Regions from separate parts of the Homo sapiens genome. Here region 2 is linked to region 1. The links come from fine-mapping of genetic effects on gene expression. Tissue or cell type: whole blood. Region 1 holds a variant in brackets; the other region holds the start of a gene. All regions are shown on one strand. Distances are between the middles of the regions.

What was found. PIP is the estimated chance that this variant, and not a neighbour inherited with it, causes the effect.
Region 2: it holds the start of KPTN, and the variant in region 1 is fine-mapped to the expression of KPTN in whole blood (TOPMed, PIP above 0.99).

Annotation. Positions count from the first base shown.
Region 1 is chr19:47,589,537-47,597,638 of GRCh38, reverse strand. No RefSeq gene overlaps it. Among named protein-coding and RNA genes, the nearest start is that of BICRA-AS2, 15 kb to the left of the region's middle. The variant T/C (reference allele first, on the strand shown) is at 4,145.
Region 2 is chr19:47,480,079-47,488,180 of GRCh38, reverse strand. KPTN (kaptin, actin binding protein) reads left to right here and starts at 3,962. Exons shown (of 12, transcript NM_007059.4): 1 at 3,962-4,246; 2 at 4,597-4,679; 3 at 4,802-4,886; 4 at 4,966-5,020; 5 at 7,148-7,223; 6 at 7,348-7,421; 7 at 7,774-7,883. The coding sequence starts at 4,021. NAPA (NSF attachment protein alpha) reads left to right here. Exons shown (of 11, transcript NM_003827.4): 11 at 1-544. NAPA-AS1 (NAPA antisense RNA 1) reads right to left here and starts at 3,899. Exons shown (of 4, transcript NR_038452.1): 1 at 3,657-3,899. RefSeq lists enhancers at 3,588-3,717, 3,748-4,037.

The sequences.
Region 1 (8,102 bases):
TCACCACACCTGGCTAATTTTTTGTGTTTTTAGTAGAGACGGGGTTTCACTGTGCTAGCCAGGATGGTCTCTATCTCCTGACCTCATGATCCGCCTGCCTTAGCCTCCCAAAGTGCTGGGATTACAGGCATGAGCCACTGCGCCTGGCCGACCCGCAGATTCTGAATGAAAGTGAACAATTTTCACATCCGATTTCTGCAACGGAGTTTGTTTTTGTTTTGAATTTCTGGTGACTTTTCCTAAAATTATATTTATTTATTTATTTTTATTATTTTGAGACAGAGTCTCACTGTCGCCATGCTGGAGTGCAGTGACGCAACCTTGGCTCACTGCAACCTCCGCCTCCTGGGTTCAAGCAATTCTCCTGCCTCAGCTTCCAGAGTAGCTGGGACTACAGGCATGAGCCACCACACCCACCTAATTTTTGTATTTTCGGTAGAGACAGGGTTTCACCATGTTGGCCAGGATGGTCTCGATCTTCTGACCTTGTGATCTCCCCAACTCAGCCTCCTAAAGTGCTGGCATTACAGGCGTGAGCCACCACGCCTGGCCTATTTATTTATTTTTTTGAGACAGAGTCTCCGTCTGTCACCCAGGCTGGAGTGCAGTGGCGCGATCTCAGCTCACTGCAACCTCCACCTCCCAGGTTCCATCAATTCTCCTGCCTCAGTCTCCCGAGTAGCTGGGACTACAGGCAATCATAGTTCACTGCAGCCTCAACCCCTTGGCCTCAAGCAATCCTCCTACCTCAGCCTCCTGGCTAGCTGGGAATAAAGGCACACACCACCACACCTGACTAATTTTTGTATTTTTTGTAGAGACAGGGTTTCACCATGTTGCCCAGACTGGACTCAAACTCCTGGGCTCCAATGATGCGCCTGCCTGGGCCTTCCAACACTTCTTTTTTTTTGAGACGGAGTCTTGGTCTGTTGCCAAGGCTGGAGTGCAGTGGCACGATCTTCGATCACTGCAACCTGCACCTCCCAGGTTCAAGCAATTCTCTGCCTCAGCCTCCCGAGTAGCTGGGATTACAGGCGCCCGCTGCCACACCCGGCTAATTTTTTGTATTTTTAGTAGAGACAGGGTTTCACCATCTTGGCCAGGCTGGTCTTGAACTCCTGACCTCGTGATCCACCCGCCTCGGCCTCCCAAAGTGCTGGAATTACAGGCGTGAGCCACCGCGCCTGGCCAAGGCCTCCCAACACTTCTGAGCCCTTTACATACATTAGCTGATGGAATCTTCACAGCAACCTTGAAGTAGGAGCTGTTGTCATCTTCATTTCACAGATGAAGAACCGAGGCACAGAGAAGTTAACTAACTGGCCTAAGTTCTTACATTTCTCTCCAGAAAAGGAAGACGAAGACCAAGAATGGCTGGCGAGGGAGGAAGTGTCCAAAGTTGCTGAGAGAGAAAAGAAGGGAAATTAAGATAAACCACTGGACTGGTGAAGGTGGAAATGATGGTTCAGTGAGGTGGTGAGGGCTGAGGTCAGCTTGCAGAAGGTGGTGAGGAAATGGCCAAGAAACACAGGAAAGGATGCTCAGTCATCAGTATTAGGGAAATGGAAGTCAAAACCACAATGAGATACAACCTCACACCCACTAGAATCATCACGATCAAAAGAGGAAAAAATAGGCCGGGCTCGGTGGCTCATAGTTGGAATCCCAGCCCTTTGGGAGGCCAAGGTGAGTGGATCGCCTGAGGTCAGGAGTTCAAGACCAGCCTGGCCAACATGGTGAAACCCTGTCTCTACTAAAAATGCAAAAATTAGCCGGGTGTGGTGGCAGGCGCCTGTAATCTCAGCTACTCGGGAGGGTGAGGCAGGAGAATTGCTGGAACCCAGGAGGCAGAGGTTGCAGTGAGCTGAGATCGCGCCATTGCACTCCAGCCCAGGCCGACAACAGCAAGACTCCATCTGAAATAAAACAAAATTGTATTTTAAAAAATGCTTAAGGGTTTTTTAAAAGCAAAGGTGTTGAGTATATATGATTTTTAAAAATTGATTGGGCTCAGTAGCTCACGCCTGTTATCCCAGCACTTTGGATGGCAGAGGCAGGCAGATCACGGGGTCAGGAGTTCGAGACCAGCCTGGCCAACATGGTGAAACCCCGTCTCTACTAAAAACACAAAAATTAGCTGGGCCTGGTAGCACATGCCTGCAATCCCAGCTCCTCGGGAGGCTGAGGCAGGAGAATTGCTTGAACCCGGGAGGCGGAGTTTGCAGTGAGTCGAGATGTTGCCACTGCACTCTAGCCTGGGCGACAGAGCAAGACTCTGTCTCGGCGTGGGAAATAAGGCTGGGTGTGATGGCTCACACCTGTAATCCCAGCACTTTGGGAGGCCGAGGTGGGTGGATCACCTGAAGTCAGGAGTTGGATACCACCCTGACCCACATGATGAAACCCCATCTCTACTAAAAATACAAAATTAGCCGATCGTGGTAGTGCATCCCTGTAATCCCAGCTACTTGGGAGGCTGAGGCAGGAGAACTGCTTGAACCTGGGAGGCGAAGGTTGTGGTGAGCCAAGATCACACCATTGCACTCCAGCCTGGGTAACAAGAGTGAAACTTCATCTCAAAAACAAATAATAATAATTAAATAAATAAAAATAAAAAATAATACAGACCAGGCACGGTGGCTCACACCTATAATCCCAGCACTTTGGGATGCTGAGACAGGTGGATCACTTGAGATCAGGAGTTCGAGATCAGCCTGGACAACATGGCAAAATCCCGTCTCTACTAAAAATACAAAAAAAAAAAAAAAAAAAATAGCTGGGCGTGGCTGGGCACGGTGTCTCACTCCTGTAATCCCAGCACTTTGGGAGGCTGAGGTGGGCGGATCACGAGGTCAGGAGATCGAGACCATACTTGCTAACACAGTGAAACCCCGTCTCTACTAAAAATATAAAACAAAATTAGCCGGGCGTGGTGGCAGGCGCCTGTAGTCCCAGCTACTTGGGAGGCTGAGGCAGGAGAATGGTGTGAACCCGGGAGGTGGAGCTTGCAGTGAGCCGAGATCACACCACTGCACTCCAGTGTGGGCAACAGAGCAAGACTCCGTCTCAACAACAACAAAAAAAAAAAAAAGAGAGAGAAAAAAATTAGCTGGGTGTGGTGGTGTGTGCCTGTAGTCTCAGCTATTGGGGAGGCTGAGGCAGGAGAATCGCTTGAACCTGGGAGGTGAAGGTTGCAGTGAGCCAAGATGGCCCCACTGCATTCCAGCCTAGGTGACAGAGTAAGACTCCACCTTAAATAAATAAATTAAATTAAATTAAGTAAAATAAAAAATCATACATATGGCAGCAGCATAGGCAAGGAGAAGAGCCAAAAATGGTTGGTGAGGGGCTGGTGGAAGGCAAGAACCGAGAGGTCTGGGGAGATGGTGGTGGAGTGAGGTTAGGTCAATGCAATGAGTGTTTGTCGGTATCTGCTCTGTGGCGGTTACTGGGAGACCCTGGGGTCTACCTCGTGGAACTCTCGGGTCTGTGGAGGTTACAGACTTCTCCCTAAAGTGGATAGGGGGAGTGAGTCCTGGGGATGTGGGAGCTCAGAGCAGGCACCTGACCCAGCCTGGGGTTTGGGAAGGCTTCCTGGAGGAGGAGGAGGATAAAGAGGAATTGTTAGGAAAAGACAGTGCAGGGAATTCTGAGAATAGAGGAATACACAAACAGTTTGTCCCACGACACACTCACAACACGCTCTGTCACTAGATATGAGGGGGATCTTCTCCCCCCAGGGGACACCAGCCTGTCCTCCAATTCAATTCACTTCTGACACTATCTACCTGGAGACAGCATCAGATCCCACAGGTTGAAGGCTGAGTCCCACAAGATTGCCCCCCACTTCTTTTTTTTTTTTGAGACAGAGTCTCGCTCTGTCTCAAAAGAGTTGCCCAGGCTGGAGTGCTATGGCACAATCTCAGCTCACAGCAACCTCTGCCTCCCGGGTTCAAGCGATTCTTCTGCCTCAGTCTCCCAGGTAGCTGGGATTACAGGCGCCCGCCACCACGACCAAGTCATTTTTGTATTTTTAGTAGAGATGGGGTTTCGCCATGTTGGCCAGGCTGGTCTGGAACTCTTGACCCCAGGTCATCTGCCCGCCTTGGCCTCCCAAAGTGCTGGGATTATAGGCCTGAGTTAC[T/C]GAGCTCTTTTTTTTTTTTTTTTTTTTTTGAGATGGAGTCTCCCTGTGTCACCCAGGCTGGAGTGCAGTGGTGTGATTTCTGCTCACTGCAACCTCCGCCTCCGGGGTTCAAGTGATTCTCATGCCTCAGCCTCCCTCCCAAGTAGCTGGGATTACAGGCACCCACCACCACACCTGGCTAATTTTTTGTATTTTTAGTAGAGACAGTTTCACCATTTTGGCCAAGCTGGTCTTGAACTCTGAAGCTCAAATGATCCGTCCCCCTTGGCCTCCCAAAGTGCTGGGATGGGATTACAGGTGTAAGCCACTGAGCCAAGCCTGTTCCCTACTTCCAGTGCCGATCTCAAGCTCCAGGTTGTTTAATTTTTTTTTTTTTTTTTTTTGAGACGGAGTCTCGCTCTGTTGCCCAGGCTGGAGTGCAGTGGCGCTATCTCGGCTCACTGCAAACTCCACCTCTCGGGTTCACACCATTCTCCTGCCTCAGTCTCCCGAGTAGCTGGGATTACAGGTGCCTGCCACAACGCCCAGCTAATTTTTGTATCTTTAGTAGAGACCATGTTGGCCAGGCTGGTCTTGAACTCCTGACCTCAAGTGAACTGACCACTTTGGCCTCCCAAAGTGCTGAGATTACAGACATGAGCCATCACACCTGGCCTAATTTAATTTTAATTTTAATTTTGAGACAGAGTCCCAGTCTGTCGCCCAGGCTGGAGTGTAGTGGTATGATCATGGCTCACTGCAGCCTTGACTTCCTGGGCTTAGGTGATCCTCCCACTTCAGCCTCCCGAATAACTGGGACTACAGATGCGTGCCACCATACCTGGCTAAGTTTTTTGTATGTTTTGTAGAGATGGGGTTTCACCATGTTGCCCAGGCTGGTCTTGAACTCCTGGGCTCAAGCAACCCTCTGGTCTTGGCCTCCTGAAGTGTTGGAATTACAGGTGTGAGCCTCCGCTCCTGGCCAGTCAGCTAAGACTTGTGAGATGAATAGAGTTGTCAGATGAGGGTGGAAGGGAAGAGGAGATGCAAAGGCCTAGCACTGGGGAAGGAGGAAAGGCAGGTGGCTAGAAAGTCAGCAGTTTGGCTGAGATGGTCTGAGGGACAGGGCAGACTTGCAGGTACACCAGGGATTTGGGGTTTGACCCCAGAGGTAATCTACAGTCATTAAAGTGTTTGCTGTTTTTTTTAATTGTTACATAATTCGGCCATGTGCGGTGGCTCATGCTTGTAATCCCAGCAATTTGGGAGGCCGAGGAGGGAGGATCACCTGAGGTCAGGAGTTTGAGACCAGCCTGGCCAACATAGTGAAGCCCCATCTCTACTAAAAACACAAAATATTAGCTGGGCATGGTAGTGGGTGCCTGTAGTTCCAGCTACTTGGGAGGCTGAGGCAGGAGAATCACTTTAACCCAGGAGACAGAAGTTTTGGTGACTGAGATCACACCACTGCCCTTCAACCTGGGCAACAGAGCAAGACTCAGTCTCAAAAAAAAAAAAAAGAAAAATTCTGATATAATTTGCCTACCATAAAACTCCTTATTTATTTATTTATTTTTTGGGGGACAGAGTTTCGCTCTTGTTGCCGAGGCTGGAGTGCAATGGCATGATCTCGGCTCCCCGCAACCTCCGGCTCCCAAGTTCTCAATTCTCCTGCCTCAGCCTCCCGAGTAACTGGGATTACAGGCATGCACCACCATGCTCGGCTAATTTTGTATTTTTAGTAGAGATGGGGTTTCTCCATGTTGGTCAGGCTGGCCCCGCTTGGCCTCCCAAAGTGCTGGGATTACAGGCGTGAGCTACTGCGCCCAGCCAATTTTTAATTTTTTTTAGTAGAGACAGGATCTTGCTATGTTGCCCAGACTGGTCTTGAATTCCTGGGCTCCGGCCGTCTTCCAGCCTCAGCCTCCAAAGTAGCTGGGATTACAAGCACACACCACTGTACCTGGCTCAAAATTCATCATTTTAAAATGTATAATTCAATGGTTTTTCATATATTCCCAGTGCTGTGCAAACATCATCACTATGTAGCTTCAGAACATCTCAGTATCCCAGCACAAAACCGCTGGCCCGTTAGTAGTCGCTTCCTATCTCCCGTCCCCCAGGTCTGGGCAACTATCAATCTACTTTCTGTCTCCATGGACTTGTCTGTTCTGGATATTTCATAAAAATAGTCATACAGTGTGTAGTCCCTTATGACAGGCTTCCTTCAGTTAGCATAATGTTCTCAAGGTTCATCCATTCAAGTAGCAGTACTTTGGCCAGGCGCAGTGGCTCACACCTGTAATCCCAGCACTTTGGGAGGCCAAGGCGGGCAGATCACCTCAGGTCAGTTCGAGACCAGTCTGACCAACATGGGGAAACACCATCTCTACTACAAATACAAAATTAGCCTGGTGTGGTGGCGCATGCCTGTAATCCCAGCTACTCGGGAGGCTGAGGCAGGAGAATTGCTTGAACCCAGGAGGCGGAGGTTGCAGTGAGCCGAGATCGTGCCATTACACTCCAGCCTGGGCAACAAGAGGGAAATTCCATCTCAAAAAAAAAAAAAAAAGAAAAAAAAAGTATCAGTAAGTACTTCATTCCTTTTTATGGCTGAATAACATTCCATTGTATGGATAGACCACATTTCACTTATCAGTTCACTTGTTGATGGACGTTTCTCTCTTTTGGCTGTTGCGAATAGTGTTGTTTTGGCTGTTGTGAATAGTGTTGCTATGGACATTTATGTACAAGTTATTGTTTGAACACCTATTTTTTTATTTATTTATATTTATTTTGAGACGGAGTCTCGCTCTGTCTCCTAGGCTGGAGTGCAGTGGTGCAATCTCGGCTCACTGCAACCTCCACCTCCTGGGTTCAAGTGATTCTCCTGCCTCAGTCTCACGAGTAGCTGGGATTACAGGCGCCCGCAACCACACCTGGCTAATTTTTATTTTTTGTATTTTTAGTACAGACAGGGTTTCACCATGTTGGCCATCTGGTCTCAAACTCTTGATGTCAACTGATTGACCAGCCTCAGCCTCCCAAAGTGCTGGGCTTACAGGTGTGAGCCACCACACCCACCCATAACAGGTTTTTTGTGTCAATATATGTTTTCATTTCTCTTGGATATCTACCTAGGAGTGGAATGAAGGTTTGCTTTGTTGTTGTTTTGTTTTTTACCAGCAATAATTTCAAGCTTACAGAAAACTAGCAAGAAAGGTAAGTAGATCTTTCCTGGATTCGCAAGTCAGTAACATTTGGCCACCTCTGCTGTATGTTTCTTTTCTGAACATTTGAGAGGCAGTGGAAGACGTCGTGTCCCTTGATCCCTAAATCCTTCAGCATGACGTTACTAAAAACAAAGACATGCTCTTTAAAAAATCCAGAACAAGAATCAGAAACAGGAAATGAAACGTTGATACAATAATACAATTGTTTAATCCACAAATTCAAATCTGTTTGTCTCAATAAAATCCTTTATAGCAATGTTTTCCCCAGCCCAGGATTCAACACAGGATCATACATTGCATCAAGTCACATGGCCGAAGGATCTTAGGAAGGAAAAAACTTAATCATCTTTGCCCTTTCCTGGAATCCCTTTGGCTGACATGGGAAGAAAAGATCGGAGGGGGAATAAGAGGGCAAGCAGGGAGACCAGGGAGAAAGCCGGTGCTTACAATAGGAAAGAGAAACTTAGGAATCAGAAAGATCTCAGTTCAAGTCTTGGCCCAGCTTTTCAGGAACTGTGGCCTTGGGCATGTGACTGAACTTCTTTAAGCCTCAACTACTGCGTCAGAAAAATGGGACTAACTCCTAGGATTGGTGTGAGACCAGGGATGTGCTGAGCACAAACCTTGCCCATCAGTCGGAATCAATTTCCCAACACCATCCCATCCGCCATTTATTCCAGTCAATTACACAACCCAGGACAGTCCTGAGTTCTTCAGATATGGTTACTTTCTGGATCCCCTCAAGA
Region 2 (8,102 bases), 110 kb after region 1:
CGGGCCACAGTGGGCAGGTGGCACCGGGGGTCAGCATGCAGGGGCGCCAGAGGCCCAGGCTGCTGGCCGGACAGTCACCCTCTGTTCTCGCTACATCCCTTGCCCCCTGTCCATTTATTTAAGCCCCCATAGGTGCCCTTCACCCCCAAAACCAGCTGTACAGAATCTTTGATACAGACCTATTTGCTAGGGGTGCTGCCGGGGATTTGGGGTCAGCATCTGGCCCCCTATCTCCTGACCAGCTGAGTCATGAGGCCGGTTTCTCTCTCTCTCCCACTTTTGTCCCCCAGCCAAGCTCTAAAGCACATGTAGCCGCTGAGACCTGCTGTTTCTGCTGGGGGCAGGCTCCTCTTCCCCCAGCCCCGGGAGCCTCCCCCAGCTTCCTGCAGCCCCGACCTCTCAGGTTAGACCCTGGGCCCTGGAGCTTAGGGGATTCTCCCCACCCCAGCCCCACACCTGCTCCTTCCCTAATGCTTTGAGGTTTTCTTGGTTGGAAGCTGCAGCTGGCCCAAGAAAGAAAATAAAAAACAACACTTTTGCATGAGTCTCTCTTCCTCCTCACCTCTGCTACCCACTCTGCCCCTGGGCCAGTCACCAGTCCCTCTCACACTCCTGGTCCCCCAGACTCTGGGCGAGCTCTTGGGAGGTCAGGCGCATGCATCCTTGAAACACGTGTGGGCTGGGTCAGTTTCTAGGTGGGGGAGACCCAGGGACGGTGGGCCTGGGGAGGAGCTCTGGCTTGGGAGTCCCAGAGCGCCCATCTTGATCTTTCTCTGGGTTCTTGGGGTCCAGGGGCCTTGATTTCCTCAACTGGGATGCACGGTGGTGATGCCACCCCTCAGAGCCAGTGGGAGGGTCGAATGTGACGGTCCTCATGACTGCTTTGGATGAGAATGGGTGGAAGCCCACCGAATCTCCCATGTCCACATTTCTCTGGCAGGAAGGCTGAACGCCCCGGTGACAGTTGTTCCATCTGTCACAGGACGGGGGAGGAAGCGGCTTTGGTGGGCAGAGTCTGAGGCCCGAGTGGGTCTGGGGAGTGGGGGAGGAGATAGCAGGAGCCTTTGCCCAGGAAAGGTGGGCAGAAACCAGCTGCCTCCACCACACTCCACAATGTGCATGTTGGGGGCCCTGTCTGGTACACATGTGCTTTACCCTGCCCCGCGCAGGGCCCCTCGCTACAGAGGAGACAGCTGAAGGAGGCTCAGTGCCCAGGCATGATGGGAAAATGTCAGGAAGTGAGCAGGGGCAGTAATTGCACAGAGGAGGGGCTGCCTAGGAAACCAGGGTGGACTCCTGGGAGAGGGGCTCCAGCCCAGAAAGCCTAGAGAAGTGCAGGTGAGGTTCAAATTCCTTGACACCTGCCCTGCTCCTCTCTCCCCTGCAGCTTCTCCCACAGCTCCAGTCCACTGATAATGGCAGCAAAGACTTCTGAGACCTGAAATTGATTACCATGTCTGCCCCCATCATGGGTGCTGGCTGAAGGATAGTGTGAGAATCTGTTTCTGTCATCCATGACCTAAATCAGTGATGGTCCGCCCTGGCTATGCTTTAAAGTCATTAAAAGTATCCAGACTTGGGGCTGGGTGCTGTGGCTCATGCCTGTAATCGTAGCACTTTGGGAGGCCGAGGCAGGCGGATCACTTGAGGTCAAGAGTTCGAGAGCAGCCTAGCCAACATGGCAAAACCCTGTCTCTGCTAGAAATACAAAAATTAGGCATGATGGTGCAAAAATAAAAGTATCCAGACTGGGGCCGCACTCTGATAAATTGTGGTTTGACTGAGGTTTCCTACCCTTTGGGGGTTTTTGGGTTTGTTTTTTTTTTGAGACAGAGTCTCGCTCTATCGCCCAGGCTGGAGTGCAGTGGTGCGATCTTGGTTCACTGCAACCTCTGCCTCCCGGGTTCAAGCGATTCTCCTGCCTCAGTCTCCCGAGTAGCTGGGATTACAAGCGTGCGCCACCACGCCCAGCTAATTTTTGTATTTTTAGCAGAGACAGCGTTTCACCATGTTGGCCAGGCTGGTCTCAAACTCCTGACCTCAGTTGATCCGCCTGCCTCAGCTTCCAAAGTTCTGGAATTACAGGCATGAGCCACCAGGCCCGGCCTGTTTTGGTTTGTTTTGTTAAAACTTCATAGGCAGTTCAAGTGTGCAGCTAGGATTGGAAACCTCTTAACAGGATGATTCCTTCCTAACCTGTAACTTCATTTTTTCATTCATCCGCTCAACATGTGGCTTATAGGTTACTAGGGCGGGAAGACGCCTGAAGGAAACGCACTGCTGAAGTGGCACTAGACCCACGTGCCACTCCCTCAGCGAATATTCACTAAGCACCTGCTGCATGCCAGGCCCTGGGAATACAGCAGCACTGACGGCATTCCCAGACTGCCCTCCAGGAACTTCTACTCTCCACATCCAGAAATCTGGAATCATCACAAATTCCTTGCCACCTCCGTTATCCAGTCTGCCTTTGAGAACTTTCCATCATGTAAGAGCTGTCTCTTACATGCTCAGCACATAGTTTGTGATTTTTGACACATATTTTCTGAATGCCTGCTTTGTGTCAGGCCTTGTGTTCCAGGTACAGGCGATAAGGCCGTGATCAAGGGAGATCAGCCTGCTGCCTTCATGGAGCTTGCAGTCTGTGTGTGCTCGAGGTGTCCAGGACAGCTGGCCAACCCATGTCTTCTGGAAATGATACACAGATGTGCACATAGTACCCAAACCTCCATGGCCTTCTAGGGACAAAGCAGCACAGACAGGAACCCCTGAAGGCCCCAGAGTCGGAAACACCTGGTTTACATCCTGTCCCCACCACTTGCTAGCATATCAGTCAGTGGACTTACTCTTTCTGAGCCTCCATTTGATTCTCTCTAAACTGGGATAATAAACCTCTTTGTAGAGGTTTCTTTCTTGCAAAGATTAGTGAGACAGATTTGCAAAGGACGTCCGGGCACATAGTAAAAGCTCAATGAATCCTGAATAAGTGAACCGGCAGGGAGGGTAACAGTAGGCCCTTGCAGAACAGTTGTAAGGAATCAGATTATCAGAGCCAGCATGACTGTCACCAAGTAGGTGTTCGATAAAGGAGGTGGTTATTATAGCTGGATCATTTTTCCTTGGGGGCAAGAAGAATGTATTAATTATTTTAAAGGTGATACTGTTAAGATTATGAACTATAGGCCGGGCAAGGGGGCTCACGCCTATAATCCTAGCACTTTGGGAGGCCGAGGTGGGCGGATCACCTGAGGTCAGGAGGTCCAGACCAGCCTGGGCAACATGGCGAAACCCCATCTCTACTAAAAATAGAAAAACTAGCCAGGTGTGGTGGCGCCTGTAATCCCAGCTGCTGGGAGGCTGAGGCAGGAGAATCGCTTGAACCCAGGAGGCAGAGGTTGCAGTGAGCCGAGATCGCACCACTGCACTCCAGGGTGACAGAGCAAGACTCCGTCTCAAAAAAAAAAAAAAAAAAAATAGTGAACTGTGGAGTTACCTTGTTTGGTTTCCAGTACTGACCGCTCGTTACTAGCTGTGTGATCTTAGGCAAGTTACTTTACCCCTCTGTGCCTCAATTCCTTCATCTCTAAAATGGATTTAAGTACCTACCTCCACCCCCTTGCGAATTTTTAATAAAGTATTAGATGGAATGCACTTACAGTAGTTCCTGGCACATAAGGGCAATATTAAGTTTTATGATGATGATGATTCGACCTTCCACACAGCATACAGCGAGAGGCCGTGGCCACCACCTCCCATCTCTAGTCACAGACTCCTTATGGCAGCCCCTTGGTCCAGAAATGGAAAGGAGAAGAGAGCGCGGGCGCAGTGGGGCAAAGTCGCCTGGGAGGCCCGAGCAGGCGACCTGGCCGCCATCTTGGGAGAGGGCAACGCCGGCAGCTTCCGTACGTCATCAGCCCGCGCAACGGCCGGGCACCCGGCGGTTCAGGTCGCTTAGAGAGTCGTAGGTTGGGTAGTGCGGGTTGGGGCGGGGGCTGCGGAGAGGGTGCTTAACTGAGGGGCATGATGGGGGAGGCGGCCGTGGCCGCGGGGCCTTGTCCGTTGCGCGAGGACAGCTTCACGCGCTTCTCGTCGCAGAGCAATGTGTACGGGCTGGCAGGCGGCGCCGGCGGGCGCGGGGAGCTGCTGGCCGCCACCCTTAAAGGCAAGGTGCTCGGCTTCCGCTACCAAGACCTCCGACAGAAAATCCGGCCAGTGGCCAAGGAGCTGCAGTTCAACTACATTCCCGGTGGGTGGCGCTATGGTGCTGGGGGGCGGGGGCCTGGAACGTGGTGTTGAGAAGGCTTCTGAGGCTCTGTCTGAGCCGGGTCACCGTGCTGGAAGAATGGGATCAGGTGGTTTTAAGGGGGTCACTGGGATCAGCGGGCAGGCATAGTTGGGGCCCGGATGAGCCTAGGGTTTCAGGATTCTTCAGACTTACAGGTCAGGATCCCTAGTACCCAGGGAACAGAGATCAGGTGATGGTGGTCAGGACTCAGACCAGAGGGCATGATCATTGCGGTAGCCAGAGCTCACCATGTTGGGGAGATTGGAAGCATGAGTCTGCCTGACACTGAACTTAGAACTCTCCCCTCCCAGTGGATGCGGAGATTGTCTCCATCGACACTTTCAACAAGTCACCCCCCAAGCGGGGTCTGGTTGTGGGGATCACGTTCATCAAGGTACCTAGAGCCCCCTCCACCTCCCTTCGCCCTCCTCCTTACACACATGGTGAGTTCCACTGAGCCGCCCCGGATCCCTCCTGCCACCCCTGCCCTCCCCTGAACCCCGTGTCCTCCGCCAGGATTCAGGGGACAAGGGCAGCCCCTTCCTGAACATTTACTGCGACTACGAGCCCGGCTCTGAGTACAACCTTGACTCTATTGCCCGTGAGTGAGGCGTGGACGGGAGGAGGGAGAGAGTCCCCAGCAGGTCCCCCATGCTAACCTGCCTGTGCCCTGCCTACAGAGAGCTGCCTGAACCTGGAGCTCCAGTTCACTCCGTTCCAGCTGTGCCATGCGGAGTGAGTGTCCCCTGCGCATCGACGCCCACTCCACTGTAAATGTAGAAACCCTGGCTTCTCGAACCCCTTCTTTACTTACAGACCCCTGTAGTCTGTTTCCCCTTCTGGAAAATAAAGAGGTTGTACTAGATTAGGGATTGAAAACTAAAATGCCAGCCGGGCACGGTGGCTCACACCTGTAATCCCAGCACTTTGAGAGGCTGAGGCAGACGGATCACCTGAGGTCAGGAGTTTGAGACCAGCCTGGCCAACATGGCGAAACCCCGTCTCTACTAAAAATACAAAAATTAGCTGGGCATGGTGGTGTGTGCCTGTAATCCCAGCCTACTCAGGAGGCTGAGGCAGGAGAATCACTTGAACCCGGGAGGCGGAGGTTGCAGTGAGCCAAGATTGCACCACAGCACTCCAACCTGGGTGACAAGAGCGAAACTCTGTCTCAAAAATAAATAAATAAAATAAAATGAAATTAAACTAAAATGCCTTTGGGGACCAGAGAGGTCATGTGAGAATGGAAAGCACAAATGTAATATAACAGGGAGCACATGTGCACACACACATATGCAGCTGAGGTTGGAAAGCTGTAGCTAACTGGAGACCACGAACTTGTCCATAGACAATCAGATTCTACATTTGTTTTTTAAAGCATTGCACTTTTTTTTTCTTTCTTTTTTTTTTTTTTTGAGATAGATGCTCGCTCTGTTGCCAGGCTGGAGTGCAGTGGCTCGATCTCTGCAACCTCTACCTCCCTGGTTCAAGTGATTCTACTGCCTCAGCCTCCTGAGTAGCTAGGATTACAGGCTCACACCACCATGCCCGGCTAATTTTTGTATTTTTAGTATAGATAGGTTTTTGCCATGTTGGCCAGGCTAGTCTCGAACTCCTGACCTCAGGTGATCCGCCCGCCTTGGCCTCCCAAAGTGCTGGGATTACAGGCGTGAGCCACCACGCCTGGCCGGAGCATCATGCTTTTAAGGTGGCCATGGACCGGATGGCCAAGGGGCCACCACACTGCCATTCCTGAACTAGATAATCTGAGAGAGTTGATGGAGCACCTGTGAATTCTGGGAATTCTGCACATCTAGAATTCCCAGATTCTAATGTTCTAGAGTCTGACATTCCAAGATCAGAGATGCTAAGTTTTCTAGAGTCGTAGGCTCTAAGATTCCAACATTTGAATATTCTACAGTACGATAGAAGCCAGAATCTTCTGAGGTTCTGTAATGATAAAGTCCTGACATTCTCATCTTTCGAGGAGATAGAACATAGAGCATCTAGAATACCAAGGTGCTAGAACCCCAAAGTGTGTGGGTTCCATTCTAGAGTTCCAGATTCCATTCCAGAACACAGATGGTCTAGAACAGGGATTGGCAAACTTTTTTTGGTAGAGATCCAGATAGTAAATATTAGGCTTTGAGGGCCAGTCTGTCACAACTACTCACTTTGCCATTGTAGCCAGAAAGCAGCCATTGACACTATAAATGAATGGATGTGGCTATGTTCCAATAAAACTTTATTTACAAAAACAGATGGTGGGTTGGATTTGGTCTGCAGGTCATAACTTGGCCAACCTCTGGTCTAACAGGTGAGAGTCCCCAAAACTGAAGATTCTAATTGCACTAATGTTCTCCTTGCTAGGATTTGGATATTCTATCATTCCGTGAATCTGAAATCTATGATGGCAAATTCTAGAAGTTCTTGTATTTTTAAGGAGACAGAAAACAGCACTTCTAGAATACCAGGGTTTCAGAATGAAGAGGTCCTAGCTTTCTAAGGTTCTGCAGTTCATTCTAGAGTTCCACATTCGATTCCTGAATCCACAGAGTGAAGGTAGGAGTAGATGCGGGCTCTAAGAGCGGGAGGTTCTAGCAAGCCATGTTCCCGCAATTCTGAGATTGGGAGGTACATTCCTTGATTTTGAGATTCTATGAGGGCTCGTTTCTACAGTTATGTATTTCAAGGAGATACAGTACTCAGGAGCTTGAGCCCTGAGATTCTAACCCTGGGTCTAGTGTCTGGATCCCAGAATGTTAAGGTTCTCAACAGGCAGGGGTTTTTGCAAGAGGAGAGTTCTGGTTCTCAGACCATGTGGATTCCACTACCTTGGGTTCTAGATTTCTCTGCTTTCAGGGTCCAGGTCGGGGATCAACTTGAGACTGTGTTTCTCTTGAGTGGGAACGACCCGGCCATTCATCTCTACAAGGAGGTGAGGTGGGGCGGCGTGCTGGGCAGAGCCCTGTGGGATTCACTGTGGGCTGGCGCTGGGTGGGTATATGTGTGAAGCTGACGGCTGACTTAAGCGGGGGTGGGGTGGGTCTTGGTTTCCCCAGAACGAGGGGCTGCATCAGTTTGAGGAACAGCCCGTGGAAAACCTCTTCCCAGAGCTGACGAACCTGACCAGTAGGTAGGAGAGGCCCCGAAAGAGGCCACTGGGGACCGGGGCACTGACATCAGAGAAATCGGGCGGTGAGACCTTAGAGAAATTGGTCACCGGGGAGGAGCTCAGAAAAATCAGTCCACGGCATGACTTCAGAGAAATTGATCAGCAGGGGTGACCCCAGAAAAAACAAGAGGTGGACTCAGCCCTCGGGTGGTGAGAATTGACCTCAGAGGAATTGGGCGGTGGGGATTATCCAGGAGGAATCAAGCAGCAGGGTCCCAGGGCTACAGGGAGGGGCGGCTGCCCCTGGGGAGGCAGAGGGGCGGGGCTGGGCCCAGCAATGGCCGTCCGTCCTGTCCATCCACCCGCCCGCCAGCGTCCTCTGGCTGGACGTCCACAACTTCCCCGGCACGTCCCGGCGCCTCTCAGCTCTGGGCTGTCAGAGTGGTTATGTCCGTGTCGCCCACGTGGACCAGCGGAGTCGAGGTGAGGGCCGCGGTGAGGCGGGGTAAGGGGTGGGGTTGAGGGCTAGAGGGCGGGGCCAGGGTGGGGCTGAGGGCTGGAGCTGGGTGGGGTAGGGGAGGAGGATAAGTGGGTTGAGGGATGAGGGTGGGGCTTGCCGGGTGGGGCTAGGGTGGGGCCGAGGGCTATTGCTGGGTGAGGTAGGGGAAGTGGGGGAAGGGATGAGGGTGGGGATTGGGGGCG